Linked DNA regions of Homo sapiens: region 2 is linked to region 1. Evidence: fine-mapped expression QTL. A gene starts in region 1. The other region holds a variant in brackets. All regions are shown on one strand. Distances are between the middles of the regions.

Region 1 (9,726 bases):
ACTATAGACAGCTTTCATACAACAGATTCACAAAACCTATACTTTTTCCAACCTCATTTTTTCATGTGGCAAAATAGCAAAATATCTTTCCATACTAAATATGAATAATGACATGCTTCAATAGCTGTATAGTATTTAACTGTATCACTGTAACATTATTTATTGAAACCTATCCACTGTTATTTGTCTTTTATATATTTTTCTCTCTTTTTTTGCTATTGAAAACCATGTTGTGACAAACATCTTTGTATTAACATCTTTGCTCATGTATCTGGTTATTTCTTTAGAAAGTAAAATCTAGCTCATGCCATCTATAATTCTGTAAGTGATCTTTCTTGAATACCTAATTGATAAGATAATACTTAATTGTGAAACAGTTAATGCAGTTTAAATACCTCCATGCACTCTCTGTGATGGATCTGAAATAAAGGTAAGGGTCAGTGCACAAAAAACAATTTAATTATATCTTGAATAACACAGATAACTATTTATTAATAATTTATTGTTAAAGCATACACTTTTTTTTTAAGTTTTATTTTTCTTTTTTCTTTTATTATTATTATTATACTTTAAGTTTTAGGATACATGTGTACAATGTGCAGGTTTGTTACATATGTGTACATGTTAAAGCGTACATTTTAAAGAAATGGTATTCAGACATATGAGCCAAGAGGTCCTACAAGTGTTCAAGAATAAATAAAATATCAAGTTGTTCAAAACACAGAAAATAATCTACGATTTTCATAATGCCACTAATATGATAGACACTTTTCAGAAAAATAAAATTAATGTAGAAACTGCCTTGTACAAAATTATTAAATTACAAATTGACCAAATGGAATGACAGTAGAAATAAGATGAAATGAGACAAGCCTGGCCAACGTGGCAAAACCCCATCTCTACTGAAAACACAAAAATTAGCCGGGTTGGTGGTGCACATTTGTAATCCAAGCTACTCAGGAGGCTGAGGTGTGAGAATTGCTTGAACCTGGGAGGTGGAGGTTGCAGTGAGCCAAGATTGAGCCACTGTACTCCAGCCTGGATGACAGAGAGAGCTAGACTCTGCCTCAATAAATAAATAAATAATAAGTAAAATGAAACTATGACTGTGTATACTGTCAATATTATATGAAAACATTATCAAACAGGCCTCACCAACAATAAGTTCTCTCTGGACCTATCCCTTTGCTTGACTTACTAATTAGGTCTCAGACTCTGTGAAATTAGCCATGAACTAAGAGAACATTGATAAATTACACATTATTCCTGTCTGATAGAAAAGATAACTCCAAAGGGTGCAGTTTTATTGCCTCACAAGTCATAAAGCTGTCTTTAAAACGTAACTTAGCCAACCTATTTCAGCCTTTATTTCTTGACTGACGGTATAAGCCTCCATTCCCTGAATTATCTTTTGATAATCAGCTTTATAATCTTGCTGATTCCCTCACTTATGAAAAATAGTAAATCTTTGACACATGCTCACTATATGTGTGTATGAGAGTCAAGTTTTGAACTTCTGAAAAATAAACTTTGGCACTACCTAAAGACAATGCTGCCAATTCGCAAACCATGTGTGGCTGTTTTAAAATATGTCCATAAATTCTTGGAAACTTCATCTTTAAGAAGGTGATATGGTTTGGCTCTGTTCCCACCCAAATTTCATCTTGAATTGTAGCTTCTATAATTCCCACGTGTCATGGAAGGAACCCAGTGGGAGGTAATTGAATCATGGGGGCAGGTCTTTCTTGTGCTGGTCTCATGATAGTGAATAAGTCTCACAAGATCTGATGGTTTTATACAGGGGAATTTCCCCACACAAGCTCTCCTGCCTGCCACTATGTAAGACATGACTTTGCTCTTCTTTCATCATCTTCCACCATGATTGTGAGGCCTCCCCAGCCATGTGGAACTCTAAGTCAATTCAACCTCTTTCCTTTATAAATTACACAGTCTTGGTTATGTTGTTATTAGCAGCATGAGAACAGACTGATATAGTAAATTGATACTGGGAGTGGGGCGCTATGTTACATGATGAACATGGCAGCATCATAAAAGGCATTGCAATTTCCTCCTAGCTCTTAGATCACTCACCTGGACAAAGCCAGCCACTATGTGATAAGGACACTCAAGCAGCCCTATGGAGAGGCCCACGTGGTGAGAAACTATTTTTTCCTGCCAACAGTCTGTGAATGCACAATCTTAGAAGCAGATCCTCTAGCCCCAGTCAAGCCTTCAGATGACTGCAACCCTGGCTGACATCTTTCCTGTAACCTAATGAGACACCCTGAGCCAAACCCTCCAGCCAAGCCAGTTTTCTCATTCCTGACTCTCAGCCTTTGTTAAATAATAATTTTTTCTTGTTTTAAGCTGCTAACTTTGCTGATACTTTGTTACACAACAATTGGTAACTAACACACCTTGACATCACTATTGGCATTTCAGCACTTTAACACTTTGCCTGTTACCCAGCAATTTGGAACTGGGTAAAAGGCAGAGGTTGGAACAGTTTGGAGGGCTCAGAAGAAGATAGGAGGATGTGGGAAAGTTTGCAACTTCCTGGAGACTCACTGAATAGCTTTGACCAAAATGCTGATAGTGATATGGACAATAAGGTCCAGGCTGAGGTGGTCTCAGATGGAGATGAGGAACTTGTTGGGAACTGAAGCAAAGGTGACTCTTGTTATGCTTTAGCAAAGAGACTGGCAGCATTTTGCCCCTGACCTAGAAATCTGTGGAACTTTGAACTTGAAAGAGATGATTTAGGGCATCTGGCAAAAGAAATTTCTAAGCAGCAAAGTATTCAAGAGGTGATTTGGGTGCTGATAACATTCAGTTTTATGTATTCACAAATATATGGTTTGGAATTGGAACCTACATTTAAAAGGGAAGCAGAGCATAAAAGTTTGGAAAACATGCAGCATGAAGATGAGATAAGAAAAACCTATTTTCTGAAGAGAAATTCGAGCTGGCTGCAGAAATTTGCATAAGGAAAGAGGAGCCAAATGTTTTTCACCAAGAAAATGGGGAAAGTGTCTCCAGGGCATATCAGAGGTCTTCACAGAAGCCCCTCCCATCACAGACCTGGAGGTCCAGGAGGAAAAAATGGTTTCATGGGCCAGACCCAGGGCCTGGCAGCTTTGTGTAGTCTCAGGACTTGGGATGACTTGCATCCCAGCCACTCCAGCTTTGGCTAAAGAGGGCAAAGGTACAGCTTGGGTCATGGCTTTAGAGGGTGTAAATCCCAACCCTTGGCAGCTTCCATGTGGTGTTGAGCCTGTGGGTGCACAAAAGTGAAGAACTGAGGTTTGGGAGCCTCCGCCTAGATTTCATAGGATGTTTGGAAATGTCTAAATGTCCAAGCAGAGGTGTGCTGCATGGGCATAGCCCTCATGGAGAACCTCTGCTAGGGCAGTGCAGAAGGGAAATGTGGGGTGGGAGCCCCCACACAATGTCCCCACTGGGGCATTGTCTAGTGGAACTGTGAGAAGAGGGCCACTGTCCTCCAGATCCCAGAATGGTAGATCCACCAACAGCTTATGCTGTGTGCCTGGAAAAGCCACAGACAGTGTCAGCCCATGAAAGCAGCCAGGAGGAGGGTTGTACCCTGCAAAGTCACAGGAGTGGAGCTTCCAAAGACTATGGGAACCCACCTCTTGCATAAGCATGACCTGGATGTGAGACAGAGACTCAAAGGAGGTAATTTTGAAGCGTTAAGATTTGACTGCCCCGCTGGATTTTGAACTTGCATGGGGCCTGTAGCCCCTTTGTTTTGGCCAATTTCTCCCATTTGGAATAGCTGTACTTACCAAATGCCTGTACTCCTATTGTATTTAGGAAGTAACTAACTTGCTTTTGATTTTACAGCTCATAGGCAGAAGAGACTTGCCTTGTCTCAGATGAGACTTTGGACTGTGGAATTTTGAGTTAATGCTGAAATGCGTTAAGACCCTGGGGGACTGTTGGGAAGGCATGATTGGTTTTGAAATGTGAGGACATGTGATTTGCGAGGAGCCAGGGGTGGAATGATATAGTTTGGCTGTGTCCCCACCCAAAGCTCATCTTGAGTTGTTGCTCCCATAATTCCCATATGTCATGGAAGGGACCCAGTGGGAGGTAACTGAATCATCAGGGCAGGTCTTTCCTGTGCTATTCTCATTCTAGTGAATAAGTCTCATGAGACCTGATGGTTTTATAAAGGGGCATTCCCCTACACAAGCTCTCTTCCCTCCTGCCATGTAAGATGTGACTTTGCTCTTCCTTCATCTTCCATCATGATTGTGATGCCACCTCAGCCATGTGGAACTGTGAGTCAATTCAATCTCTTTCCTTTACAAATTACTCAGTCTCAGGTATGTCTTTATTAGCAGTGTGAGAACAGACTGATACAGAGAGGAAGTTTAACTGCCCTTCTCTTGAGTATGGACTGGACTTAGTGACTTTTTTCTAATGAGTATGTTACATGGTGAACATGGCAGCATGTCACTTCTGAGACCAGGTCATAAAAGGCATTGCAGTTTCCTCCTTGCTCTTAGAACACTCACCTGGATGAAGCCAGCTGCCATCTAATAAGGATATTCAAGCACCCCTATATAGAAGCCCACATGGTGAGAAACTGTGGTTTCCTGCCAATGGTCTGAGTGAGCAATCTTACAAACAGATCCTTCAGTCCCAGTCAAGCCTTCAGATGACTGAAACCTTGGCTGACATCTTTCCTACAACCTAATCAGACACCCTGAGCCGAACCCTCCAGCCAAGCCAGTTTTCTTATTCCCGACTCTGTCTTTGTTAAATAATTTTTTTGTTTGTTTTAGGTCGCTAGGTTTGCTGTTACACAGCAATTAGTAACTAATACAGTTTGACATCACTATTGGGAAGTTTCTACTCCTGTTGTTTTTTCATTTTCCACTGTCTTCGGTGGGTATGCTCTCTTCTCAGCAAACATCTCAGTTCTTCATGGGCTTTATATGCCCTGGAAAGTGTCACAGCCTGCAGAGAAGCAATGTTCCCTGTGGTGACTTATCCTCACCTTTGTGAGAATGGCAATAACCCTGGAGGTAGATGTGGCCTCTGCTCTTGCTGTAGAGATGACTTAGGGCAGGTGTATTCACCTATATGAGAATGTAAGCAGAGTTTATTATGGTAAGATAGTAAATTCCTGTTAGGGAGATAAATTTAGTAATAATTAAAGTAACTGATATTCACTTGGTGCCCACTATGTCCCTAGAATTCTATAGCACTTCCCACAATGTGTTCCATGAGACTCCAATAGAGAGATAATGAGCAGCAAGTATTCCCGGCGGCTTAGGGTGGTGTGAAATCACGCTGAGAATCCTGCTTCTCCTCAGGTCCTGGTAGTTTCAGGGCCCCTCCCTAGGCCTTACTTAAAAGGCTGAGGCATCCTTGGAAGAGCAGGCAGACTCCACGGATCCCACCAGGAGAAAGGAGCATTCTGAGGTATGCTCTAGGGCACTGGTGGGACTGGAGCTCTCTCCTCATTTCAGACCCAGAATCTCCTGCTCTGTGGAAGCTGTTCTCATGCTGGGGGACTCAGTGTGGCTGCTTGACTGGATGAGACAGAGGATGTGAAGAGCCAGGTTGGCATCTAGCACAAACCCACAGACACGGGTTCCTCCCCACTCTGTCTTTCTCACCTCTCCTTCACTTTTCCTAGGTATGTAAAGAAGACATTAAGAACACGGCAAAGGCCAAATTTACATTGACTTAAATCTAAGACTGGTTCATGACCAAAAATGCATGTAGCTAGCATGGCTTTCCCAACGCAGAGAGAAAAAGGCATGGACTCAGCTCCAACAGACTGGCGTAATGAGTGCAGAATATGCTGTGAGGTTTTAAATTTGCTGACAAGAAAGGTTAACGTTTGTTACACATTCACTCTGTCAGGTACAGTGATAAAAGCAATATAGCTATTATGTTGCCTCATTCCCACATCAGTCCTCTAAGGTAAGTGCTATGCTTATTCCCATTTAACTGATAAGACAAAACGAAAATTAGAGAGGCTAAGTCACCTAAGGTCACAAAACTAGTAAGAGATGGACCTGGTATTGGTACTCTTGCAGCTTGACTTCATACTAATTCACACCCATTCCCCAATATGAAAAATAAGCTGTGTAATGCTTATAAATTCACACATTTGGAATAGAAGGCAGAGCTCGAGGCTGGGGGAATGAAGGAGTCTGCACAAAGGACCAACAGGCTTTCTAAGAAGATAATAGAAACCAGCCAGGTGCAGTGGCTCGCACCTGTAATCCCAGTACCTTGGGAGGTAGAGGCGGGCAGAACACTTGAGGCCAGGAGTTCAAGACCAGCCTGGCAAACATGAAGAAACCCCGTCTCTACTAAAAATACAAAAACTAGTTGGGCATAGTGGTGCACACCTGTAATCCCAGCTACTTGGGAGGCTGAGGCACGAGAATCACTTGAATCCCAGGAGGTGAAAGTTGCAGTGACCTGAGATCATGTCACTGCACTTCATCCTGGGCAACAGAGCAAGACTCTGTCTCAAAAAAAAAAAAAAGGAGAGAGGGAGAGAAGATAATAGAAACCAACAGAGTTGGTGCAGAGACAAAGGAGTGCCCCATAGCAGAGTGTGGCACACTTTGGGTTGGACGGAATTTATCACTCCCTGGAGTGACTTTTGGTAGCTGAGGACATCCGTGAAAGTCCTTCCTGGAGTAGGAGTGATGGTGTGCATGCACAGACACAGCCTCCAGGGAGCCGTGAGCAGAAGGGGACCTCCAGCTGCATCCAGGACTCCCTCTCCAACCCAGCCACATCAGAGGGGAAGGGTACCACTTGGCTCATAGCGCTTTCGAGAAACCCTGGATGCCAGTGAAGTCATGGGGAGGCTGTGGGCCAGGATCCACAGGGCTGCAGCTGGGTGCTGAGCCAGAGGCCAGTGGCTTTGTTGCCTGCCCTCAGCCCCGTGGCACCCTCTGCCTGGGAGGCTGGGGAAGGGCCAGGTGCACAGGCCGGGATCTGAGAGAGCGCGTGGGCAGTCCACAGGGCAGGTGAGGCTCTGAGAGAGAGTGTGGGCAGTCCACAGGGCAGGTGAGGCTCCGGTGTGTGTCACACCCACAGTTTCTGCTGACTGAGTCCCATGAACAGGGCCAGAGCCACCGGCAACTTCTGTACCCCAGATCCACATTCAGGCGCTTTCCTCGTCTGTGCCTCAGAGGCTTCCAGAGCCTGCGGACTCGCCTCCGCCGGACTGTGTAGTTTGACCATTGCTCTCCAGCAGGAAACTGGAAATAAACCCAGGGCTAGGCACTGGCTGAGCTCCATTCTCCCCGGTCCTGCGCTGGCCCCTCCGGCGGGGCCTGCCGCTCTCAGTGTGCCGGGCCAGGATCTACCGGCAGGGGGCGCTCTCCACCAGGCTAGGTCGGGAGGCCACGATGAGAGGCACGGCCTCCGATTCAAGGATCGGGAGGCCACGCTGAGAGGCACGGCCTCCGATTCAAGGATCAGGAGGCCAGGCTGAGAGGCACGGCCTCCGATTCAAGGATCGGGAGGCCACGCTGAGAGGCACGGCCTCCAATTCAAGCTCTCTTCCTCTTTTTCTGTCTCTTTCCACAAGGATCTGCAGCCCTCACCCGAGTAGCGAGCATCTAAAGCAGGACTAGACGAGGCAAGGGAGCTGCACCAGGGCTACCCCTGAGAAAGCCCCAGCTCTCCTCGGCTTTCTCAGTGATGTGTGGCTTTCGTGGGCTCCTCAAAAACAGAAACTATCTTTTTTTATTATTATTATCTGTCCCTTTTTGCTGTTTTTGATAACTTATTTATTCGATAGATGTCTGCACATTTGCCTCTTTTGATATATCTTTAAATTGTTATTATTAAATGTGGTAAGATATACATAATATAAAAATTACCATTTTAACCATTTTTAAGTGTACAGTTCAGTGGCATTAAGGACATTCACATTGTTGGGCAACCATCACCACCATCCATCTCCAGAACTCTTCTCGTTTTGCAGAACAGAAATTTTGTACCTACAAAACAATAACTCCTCACTCCCCTCTCCCCAGCGGCCCCTGGCAACCACCATTTTACTTTCCATCTCTATGAATTTGACTGCTTTAGGCGCCTCATATACGTGGAATTACACGGTATTTTTTTTTTTTTGTTATTAGTTTATTTCACTTAACTGAGTTTACTTTCAAGATTCATCCATGTTGTAGCATGTATCAGAACTTCATTCCTTTTAAGGCTGTGTGGTGTGTGTACCACATTTTCTTTATTCGTTCATCTGTCGATGGACACTTGGGTTGCCATCACCTTTTGGGTATTGTGAATAATGCTGCTATGAACATGGGTGTTCAAATAGCTTTTCAAGTCTCTGCTTTCAATTCTTTGTGAATATACCCAGAGGTGGAACTCCTGGATCATATGGATAATTCTATGTTTAAGTTTTTGAGGAACAACCATACCGTTTTCCACAGTGGTTGCACCATTTTACATTCCCACCAACAGTGCACAAGGGTTCCAGTTTCTCCACATTCTTTTTTTTTTTTTTAGACGGAGTTTCACTCTTGTCGCCCAGGCTGGAGTGAAGTGGCGTGATCTCAGCTCACTTCAACCTCTGCCTCTCAGGTTCAAGTGATTCTCCTGCCTCAGCTTCCTGAGTAGCTGGGATTACAGGTGCACGCCACCATGCCTGGCTAACTTTTGTATTTTTAGTAGAGACAGGGTTTCACCATGGTGACCAAGCTGGTCTCAAACTCCTGACCTCAGGTGGTCCGCCCACCTCGGCCTCCGAAAGTGCTGGGATTACAGGCATAAGCCATCACGCCCCACCCAATTCCTCCACATTCTCATCAACACTTGTTATTTTCTATTTTTTTCTAATAGCAACCATCTTAATGGGTGTGAAATAGCAGTATATCATTGTGGTTTTGATTTACGCTTTCCTAATTATTAGGGATGTTGAGCACCCTTTCATGTGCTTATTGGCTATTAGTATATATTATTTGGAGAAATGTCTACTCAAGTCATTTGACCATTTTTTAACTGGGCTATTTGCTTTTTTGTTGTTGAGTTACAGGAGTTCTATATATATTCTAGATGTCAACCCCTTATATGACTTTCACCTATTTCCTCCCATTCCCTGAGTTACCTTAACATACTATTAATAGTGTCATTTGAGGTACAGAAGTTTTAAATTTTGATGTAGTCCAATGTATCCATTTTTTCTTTTGTTGCTTTTGTTGCCTATTTTTTGGTGCTATATGCAAGAAATCATTGCCAAATCCAATGTGATAAAGCTTTCCCCTATGTTTTCTTCTAAGGGCTTTAACTTTCATTTAGGTCTTTGATTCATTTTGAGTTGATGTTTTTATGTGGTATAAGATAAGGGTCTAATTTCATTCTTTTGCATGTGCACCATCACCACTTGCTCCACCATCACCATCATCACCCACCAACACAACTGCCATCATCAGTATCATTATTGTGTGATGCTTCCTCTTCATCATCATTAAGAAGAACAATAGCTAGCATATTTTAAATTATTAAACATTTTTAAAATAAATTCAATTGCTTTCATAGAAATGGGATTACTCAGGTTACTTACTTCTTCTGTGGGTTTTAGTAGTTTGGCTTTCCAAATGTTGGTCCATTTTATCTAAGATGTTAAATTTATGGGCATAAATTTGTTTGTAGTATCCTCTTATTACCCTTCTAAAGTATGTGTAATCAGTAGTGATGTCC
Region 2 (9,726 bases), 22 kb after region 1:
TCTGACTGGCTGAATCACCAAGGCTGGGCCTCCGACATCATCCACCTACCTTCACACCAGGAAAGGAATATCTGGGCTCTCAGCTTAAAGAATCAGGATAAGGCGCTCTGGGCAGGATCAAATGCTTATTTATTCTATGCCTCACAGGCTTCTGAAGGCCTGAGTTTGGCCTATCCAGGAATTAAGCTATTTTAGCACCCACAGAAATGTGTTCTTCCTGGGGGCAGGAAGAGGAAATTCCTGCTCATTACTGACTTTGTCACCAGAAGGACAGAGACTGAGGCAGAATCTCCAACCTGGGAATGAAAACTGAGCTTCATATCAAGGGTTGGATGCCCTCAGCTGCATTCATCAGATATTTGGTTTTTCTCTCTGAGCAAAAAGAGAAAAGATGCCATGGGGTGTGTCTGAATAAGCCCTCCTAAGTTTCCTATATTTATCTCCTTAAAGGAGACTCAGCACCCACTTCATGAAAAAAAAAAAAAAAGCAAGGTGTTTTCAGATAAATAAAATGAGGGCATGGAACGTGACTAATTAGTTTTAATCTTTTTTTTTATAACAACACATGTATATTGCTTTAAAAATAATATAGAATCAGGCCTGGTACGCTGGCTCACGCCTGAATTCCAGCACTTTGGGAGGCAGAGGCAGGCAGATCATTTGAGGTCAGGAATTCAAGACCAGGCTGGCCAACATGGCAAAACTCATCTCTACAAAAAAAATACAAAAATTAGCCAGGTGTGGTGGTGCATGCCTGTAACTCCAGCTACTTGGGAGGCTGAGGCAGGAGAATTTCTTGAACCCGGGTGGGGCGGAGGTTTCAGTGAGCCAAGATCGCGCCACTGCATTCCAGCCTGGGCGACAGAGCAAAAGAAAAGAAAAAAACAAAAGAATCGAAAAGTGCAAAATTACCAACAACAGAGCCCTGACCATTTCTTCCCCACCAAATCCTACTCTCCTGAGGCAACCACTTCCCTTCTTTTATCTCAATCCTCTGATCAGTCAGGAAAGGCATTGTCTATGTCAGAGACACAGCTTCATCCTGGGAATCTTCACACCTCCTCCCTGGGTGAAGCCATTATTCCATGACTCTTGGGATTGCCTTCTTCTTAATCTATTTCTGTTTCTAACTCATTTATTTATCTCACCCATTTATTTACCATCAAGTCATCTAGGTATAAACATCAAAATATTTTTGTTTTTTCCTTTTCTTCTTCTTTAATTTCTACTTTCGATGTTGCTATATTCACTTGCTTTTTTTCTCACTGGATATCAGGTCCTCTAACAACATCCCTGCCAAACTTCACAACTTTCTTGTTGCTATTATTATTTTTTTTTTCAGAAGAGCTTCTCAAGATGGTGGGCATAGGCGAATGGATCATGTACCCCTACCAGTGCTGAGATGTTAGGGGCCAAGAAAAAGCACAGGAAAGGCAGAGTTCTTGCAGCACTGGCTTTGGGTTTGCAGAGGGAGGGGTTCCCACAGTTTCTGGTACAGTCTGATTTCATTTTATTTCAGTACACCGTGTGTGTAGTTTCTTGGACAGGGTGACTGACCATCAGTGTCACCCTGTCTGTCTTCATCATTAAGCACTCTCAGGACCTGAATAGATCCCAGATTCAAATTCTTTTCATGGTTGGACATCCTATCACTTGACCCATTGATCCCTTGGGGAAAATCTCATGGTTCCAACCCTTCTGCCAACCACTGGCTTCTTTGCATGGAGTCATGAGAGCCTTCAGTCTTCCACACTTTAAATGTCTAAAAGTTCTGAGTTGGGGTGGGAGTTTCTGCCAAGTTCTTCCAAGGAATGTGACCCCATAGTTTCTTTAGGCTCTGCTGGTGCTGGGAAGGTTAGAGCCTTGTCTGTATCTCTAGAGTACACCACACTTCAGTAAAATCACATCAGGGTCTCCCTGAACTCCCTCACCACACACTGCCCTGGCCAAGGAGCCAAGGTGAGCCTGTGGGTCTCTAGGTGTGCCAGTCATCCAGATGGGGGCAAAGCTGCCAGTCCCACTGACTGTTTGAGTGATTCTCTTGGGAGGCTCCATCCTGGCGATAGGAGAGCATCCCCTGGCCCTTCTCCATGAGGAGGTCAAGAACTCACCTCTCACCACAAGTGATGCCTTTCCTACAAAGCATCCCACTCCCCTTTTCTCTTCCCTGTCTTCCTCTTATTCATGAGATACTACATACATTTATTTGTTTATCAAAAAATATTTGTTAGTTCCCATAAGAGGTCCGCACCATTCCTGCCACTGAGCACATAGTTCTCTGGCCTCAAGACAAAACAGGTTCCCTGGCCCCACAGAACTGGCATTTTGGTAGTGGAGATAATAAATAAATAAATAGATGGATAAATACATTTTCCAAAACCATGGAAGCATACATTTTATGAAGAAAATAGTTGAGCAAAATAAGGGGCTAGGACATGGGTGAGGGACTCTTGGAGATAGGCTGGCTGGGGAATACCTTATTGAGAAGTTGGCTTTTTTGCATATGCATGGAAGAAGCGAGGGAGTGGACCACTTGTTGACCTGGGGAAGGCTGTTCCTTCAGAGGAACAGGAAAAACTCCCTGCAGGCGAAGATAAGCTTGCAGGGCAAGAAAATCAGCAGAATCCAGTACATCCAGAGCAGGGAAGTCAGATGGGCAGGGATAGAAGGCAGCAGAAAGATAAAGAGGACCCAGATCATGTGGGCTTGGTGAGGGCTTTGGTTATTTGGGGCATAAAGCAAAGCTATTAGAGGGTTCTGTGCAAGAGAGTCATACGACTTTATTTACATCTTTGATTCTGGTCACTGCTAGGTGGACATCTGACTCTAGGGAGGTAAGAACAGAAGCAAGGAGACTATTGCAATGCTCCAGAAGATAGAGTCAATGGTGGATTTCCAAGAGCAGAACCACAAAGAGTGATTGGGAGTAGGACTGACCAATAATATTCGGTTTCAAGAGTAATGATTTTCTTTCATAGCCAACATTGAAGCCGCGTCTGACTCCTAATTCAGAGTTAGAAAGCCACAAGACCTCCAAGTTCTCTCCTCTCCTCTCCTGGACACATTATAGATTTTTCAGTATCCTCAACTGAATGCAAGACTGTGTTCCGGCTAGTGCAGTATGCAGGAGACTATGACCCAGGGGAGGCATGTCACATAATCATTAAGAATAGAGAGACTTGGCTTCTAACTTGGCTAGATTTCTTAGTAGCTGTATGACTTTGGGTACATTCTGTCATCCCTCAGAGCCGCTGTTTTCTTACATGAGAAATAAAATTAATGGCCCCTAAAGAGTTGTGTGTGGGACGGGTGCAGTGGCTCACGCCTGTAATCCTAGTACTTTGGGAGGCCGAGGCGGGTGGACTGCCTGAGCTCAGGAGTTTGAGACCAGCCTGGGCAACACAGTGAAACCCCTTCTCTACTGAAATATAAAATACAAAAAACTAGCCCAGTGTGGCAGTGGGTGCCTGTAGTTCCAGCTACTCGGGAGGCTGAGGCAGGAGAATCACTTGAACCTGAGAGGCGGAAGTTTCCATGAGCCGAGATCGTGCCACTGCACTCCAGCTTGGCGACAGAGCGAGAGCGAGACTCCATCTCCAAAAAAAAAGTAAATGTAGCGTGAAGATTAAAAGGTTACTCAGGTAAAGCTCTTACAACTTTAGCAGAAACAGAATAAGCTCTCAATATTTGTACCATATAAATGTGACATGGTGGGTGTGTAAAACTCCTGCAAGGAGTACTGTGATTGGCCTAACATCAGATGCAAACACAGCAATGGCTTCATGCAGTTTAGTGGGTCAAGAGAGCCACACCTCTGCCTCCAAGGGAGACACACCTCTGCCTCCAAGGAAGACCAGTAAAGGCACTCTCCTCAACTCAGCATCTGGCCTAATCCGCATTTCCTCATTGCTGTTTTCTGATGTTGCCTCTGCTCTTGTTAATCAGGAAGCACAGACCAGTCATGCTTGTGTTGCTCCACTGTCAGTCCTCCAGAGCCTCAAGAGATCTTTGGGCCATATCAGCTTTCTTTCCAAAATGAACACACCCAGGGGCAGGAAAGAATGCTCTTTCCTTGGTCATTAAGGGGCCTGGGAGTCCTGGACCAGCTTTTCATGCAGCTAGACCACTTACATGCAACTAGAGCCTTGACTTTGAAAC[G/C]AGGGACAAAAGCATCTCTTGCTAAAGGTAACTTCTGCTGCTTAGAACCCAGGTATGGGGAACTTCTTTCATGTCTCTGTGTTTAGCCTCGAAGTGCCTCTGGGAGTCTTGTCAAAGGTACAGAGTACTGAAGGATCCAGGGCTGCTTACAAGGGTGCAGGTTGGTGATCTGCTTATCCACTGTGTAGGGACAACTATTGAATCACACATCAAGGATCCTGAGAGAAGGAGGGTTGTGAACAACTGGTTCTCATTGTGGAGTGTCTGTGATATTCTTGGGGACTGTTCTGGTGCCCTAACTAGAAAACCAGAGGCAGATGATCCCTAATAGTCAAAGCACCTTGTGGGGCCCTCAGTGGCCATGTGCATGATCCTTACAGATGTCTCTTTGGATGAGGAATGGAAGAAGATGGGCTCAGTGAGGCAGGTTAGCTACAAATTACTTAGGAGTGTTCAGCTTCAAGTCAGGAAAAGTGGTGATTAACCTGCTGTGTGGAGGGCTAAAATGGAGATACACACACACACACACACACACACACACACACACACAGACACACACACGCACTCTGTCTCTCCCTCCTTCCTCTCAACCCAGAGACTCAGAGTACTAGAAGGTGCCCGTGGTGATGTGTTGGAACCTCCTAACAATCCCAGATGTGATTAATGGAAAGCATACCAAGACCATCACAGCCTAGAGAAGCAGGACTGTGCCAGCCACAGCAGAGATGGGAGCTTCCTTTTAGGGTTTTCTGGCCTTGAAATGTCCTGTACCCATCCTTATTCTCAAATATGCATCTAGGAGAGGCTCTCAGGGCAGCTCTCTCTAAAGAATTTTTACAGTAAAATTTTAGGGGGAGAGGAGAAAAAAGCATAACATGTTTCTTCTCTCCTTCTCTCACATGGCCAACTGTTAACAGCCTCCTCACCACCATCTGATCTATCTTGTTCTCTTCACAAAAGGCTCTGAAGACATCATGAACCCACAACGTAAGTGGTGAATTGCAAATCAGCTTGGAAATATCTCCATCTGACCTCATCAAAGACAATAGGATGGAAGGACCCCTATCATTTGCTAAGCTATAAATGTATTTGCTCTTGCTAAAACACTCAGTTCCTAAAACGGCCTTTGAAAATCTCGGGGCACCTAGCTCTTTTATTATTATCTGTATTTAGAATTGCTTGTTTATTTTGATGAGAGGATTTTAAAAAACAACATATGGATAACTAATTTAAATATTATGGGGTTTTTTTTACCACCTAGACATTTTATCATTCGGAAAAAGACAAGTCACTAATAGCCCTAGAAAAAGGTGAATCTTGGGACTGTGACTGCACGTAGATCCTTTCAAATGCTTTGATTCACAAACTAGTCCCTGCCCTATTTCCCCTCCATTTATCGTTATAGCCACTACTTCTCAGAGCAATGAGACTCTCTCCAGAAACTCAAAAGCCATTAATACCAGGATGCAACTGGAGTCCTGAAGTTGATAACCTCACGTGTATTTTGTGCATTTTTGTCATCTGGCAGGGGAGGCAGCACCCAAATCCTATGCTATTCGTGATTCTCGACAGATGGTGTGGGTCCTGAGTGGAAATTCTTTAATAGCAGCTCCTCTTAGCCGCAGCATTAAGCCTGGTGAGTGACAATCAAACCCACTGTTGCTTCTTGAGGTGATGCCATCTTCACCAGGAATGAGGCTGAGCTTGCATAAGCCTGGCCCTGGACCTCACCCACTTCTAGGCACCAGCCCAACAGCCACAGGAAGGTCAAGTGAGAAAGGACACTATGATTCCCTTCCACAAAGGAAATCCCATATCTAGAAATGAGGGTGTGAAGGGTTGACAGCTCCTCTTACCAAAAGAAAATATCTTCAGATTAGAAGGGCTTATCCATTCAAACAACAGCTAACCTTCTCCTTGGAGTTTCTCTCCTTCAGGTTCCAACCATTGCTACCTGTGTCCTCAGATTCAAACTCCGTCATCTTTCCACCACCAAACCTACACAGCTTTCTAAGTTGGCATCCTCTTTTCTAATAATGGGGAAATATTCCTTTCTCCCATCAAAAGTCAGTCCATCTCAGCTTCTTTCCCTGTATCCAGAACTTCAATGTTTAATTCCTCGCTTCCCTGCAAATTCCACCTTTGTTTACTGGACCCTTTCTATCATTGTCAGACATGCTGCAACCTTCTCTTGATTCCCACATTTTCCTCCTACTAACACATTTTCTTGTGCCAATCATAGCAAAACTTCACGAGAGCTGGCTGCATAATTTGCAGTCTAACATCTGGATTACTCTTCCTACTCCCCCCCAACCTTCTATTTCACCCATGACCTTCAAATACTCAAACCCAAAGGACACTTCTTGGTCCCCATGCTATTTGGCCCTTAGCTCACTAGTGTAATGGACCATTTCCTTCTTGAATACTCTACATCTTCTCCCTTTTTTTTTTTTAAACGGAGTCTCACTCTGTCACCCAGGCTGGAGTGCAATGGCACGATCTCAGCTCTCTGTAACCTCCACCTCCCAGGTTTCAAGCAATTCTCCTGCCTCAGACTCCTGAGTAGCTGGGATTACAGGTGCCCACCACTGTGCCTAGCTAATTTTTGTATTTTTAATAGAGATGGGGTTTCACCACATTGGTCAGGCTGGTCTCGAACCCCTGACCTCGTGATCCGCCCACCTCAGCCTCCCAAAGTGCTGGGATTACAGGCGTGAGCCACCGCACCTGGCCCATCTTCTCCTTCTATTAGAATATTACTTCTCATGAGGTTTGCTGGCTCCTCTTTTGCATTTTCTTTTATGACTCTCCTTTGTCTCTGAAATCTCCAAATGATGGCGTTCCTCAGGGCTCAGCCAGTCATCATTTACAAGCCCTGTGAATGGGTAATGAGCTGATCTTTTGCATTGATGAATCACCCCTACACTCATTCACTCTGCCGTTTACACTTCCAACACAGATCTCCTCTCTCAATAGTTTACCCGTGTCCTCTTGAGGTCCTCTCAGATACCTCTAACTTCATGTATCCCAAGTGGGACTATTGATCTGTCTTCTCAAAACCGCTAACATTCTCTGTTGGTGGCACTTCTGTCCACTCCATTTCCTCGAGCCGGAAATACAGGAGACATCCTTGATTCCTCCTTTCCCTCACTCTCCATCCAATCTATTAGCAAAGATTGGTAGGTCTACGTGCAAAACATGCCTGATTTCTAAGATAACATCATCTCTTGCCTGGACCACTGCCATCACATTCTCACTACCCACCTCTCACTTTATTTGGGTAGCCCCCATCCCATCTCATATTGTGGCCCATGAGATAGAAGCTCCCCACTTTTATCTCATGGGCCACATCTTAAGCATATGACCACATTTTGCTGCAAGTGTGGTAGGAAATTTTACTTCTTTTTGGGAAGCAACATGTCCTGGTGACAACTGGGGTTCTGTTATTAAGGACGAAAAACAAAATAGGTTTGAGGAGGGTGATGGAGGGTCTCTGCCACATGGCTAATGGGAGGAGCCTGTCACTATTCCCTACCTGGGGGGAGTAACTGAGTGTCAGACCAGAAAGACTGAAACATCTTCTCCATTTTCCTTTGTGTTTCCAGTCACTCTTCATTTAATAGCCTGTAGAGACACAGAATTCAGTGACAAGGAAAAGGGTAATATGGTTTACCTGGGAATCAAGGGAAAAGATCTCTGTCTCTTCTGTGCAGAAATTCAGGGCAAGCCTACTTTGCAGCTTAAGGTGAGTGATTGTGCAGCTAACGAGAGAAGTACTGTCATATGGACTTTCTATTTCATTTACTATGTTACTGAATAAAAATAATATGCTTGCAACCCTGGACTATTCAATGTAAGGAAATAATTCTGACCTGGCTGATCCCTGAATCTATAAATGCTGCCTTTGGAATGGATATAACACTTCTTTTAATGTCAGAGCATAGATCCTCTGAAAGATAGAAAATACACTTACAGGAATGTTTCAGAAAAGCCAAAGAACAGTATTTTCTCCATTCTCGGTCCTGTTTAACTGCATTCTGGAAATCCTCTAAGACAACGGGATGCTCTCACTACACCAAAGGTGACTGCACAGCAGAGGAGACAAAAAGATTTTGAATGTGGTTATGGTCTGTGTACCATAAACACATAACTCTTACCAAGGCAACATTGTAGTTATGAAGCTAATTCTTCTGCTATTGTTGGAAATTGTAATGCATAAGCCCACTTGGAGGTTGAGAATGCAGCAAGACTGGCCTGAACCTGCAGACAAATGCATATCAAAAGCACCAAGAAAGAGATTTCAACCTCCCTCTGTTCCAGGGAAGACAGTGATGCTTCAAAGAGTCAGAGCACCTTGTGTCAGAGGATCCTGGGGTGGAGCCAGGCTATGGGAACCCAGTGAGTTCCCGTTTTTAACACTCTAATGCCCTGCTTCATCTGCCTTTGTCCCTAGCCTCTGTCCCTTCCTTTGGGGGCAGCAGTCCCTCTCCTGTTACACACTCAGAGCTGAGTTACTTTAGCTTCCTCCTCCTATCCTCCTCTCTAACAAGCCTCTTTTCCACCCCCAGGAAAAAAATATCATGGACCTGTATGTGGAGAAGAAAGCACAGAAGCCCTTTCTCTTTTTCCACAATAAAGAAGGCTCCACTTCTGTCTTTCAGTCAGTCTCTTACCCTGGCTGGTTCATAGCCACCTCCACCACATCAGGACAGCCCATCTTTCTCACCAAGGAGAGAGGCATAACTAATAACACTAACTTCTACTTAGATTCTGTGGAATAAATCCAGCCTAGGCTGTGGGTGGCTGGTTCCAGGATAGAGAATCAAGCTGTCAGAGTCATCTTAACAGATCATTATGCGACTGAGTTCACTAGCAGTTCAGCCCATCCATAGCTTACCTCATTCTTACTATCCAAAAGCCACCTCCTCCTCCAAACATCCATTTCTGTACCAAGACCCTCACTCGAATGTCACTATCCCAAGATGAAACCTAAAAATCACTTTCCATTCTTTCTTGATCTTACCCCACCATCCACTCAGCTGCCATGCCCAGTTTAGTCAACCCCCCAAATGCTGCTTCATGCAACCTTCCATTCCTATTCCTTTTGCCAACCCATGATGTAGAGATGTGGATTCATGACATTTTGTTCATACAACTTCTTCAATAAAACATTATAATATGTGCCCCAAAGATAAAGCTGAAGAATGAGATGAATGTGAAATTAAAGGTTTGCATGTCTTTCTAATCCTAATGAATTCTTAATGTCATTCGTTAATAATTTGACACACAGTGTATACACTTAACCCTTGAACAACACGATTTTGAACTGCACAGGTCCACTTAAACACTGATTTTTTTCAATAAAAGTTACACCAAATGTCCCTGCTTCTCCTGCCTCCCCCTCTAACTCCTCCACCTCTTCTGCCTCTCCACCCCTGAGACAGCAAAAACAATCCCTCCTCTTTCTTCTCCTCAGTCAATGTGAAGATAATGAGGATAGATTGTTATGATGATCCACTCCCACTTAATGAATAATAAATATGTTTTCTCTTCCTTACGAGTTTCTTA

Direction of the effects. Alleles are on the strand shown, and positions count from the first base shown. SD is a standard deviation of normalised expression in the study named.
For the expression in esophagus mucosa of the gene that starts at base 5,621 in region 1, allele G in region 2 goes with a higher level than allele C (moderate effect, 0.43 SD a copy in GTEx).

What was found. PIP is the estimated chance that this variant, and not a neighbour inherited with it, causes the effect. A credible set is the group of variants that fine-mapping cannot tell apart.
Region 2: its variant is the best candidate, but not a certain one, in a credible set for the expression of IL36B in esophagus mucosa (GTEx, PIP 0.68).

The regions. Positions count from the first base shown.
Region 1 is chr2:113,048,762-113,058,487 of GRCh38, reverse strand. IL36B (interleukin 36 beta) reads left to right here and starts at 5,621. Exons shown (of 5, transcript NM_173178.3): 1 at 5,621-5,671.
Region 2 is chr2:113,027,116-113,036,841 of GRCh38, reverse strand. IL36B (interleukin 36 beta) reads left to right here. Exons shown (of 5, transcript NM_173178.3): 2 at 5,076-5,145; 3 at 5,687-5,794; 4 at 7,764-7,903; 5 at 8,727-9,409. The coding sequence starts at 5,133. The coding sequence ends at 8,939. Among named protein-coding and RNA genes, the nearest start is that of IL36B, 21 kb to the left of the region's middle. RefSeq lists a silencer at 2,456-2,750. The variant G/C (reference allele first, on the strand shown) is at 4,159.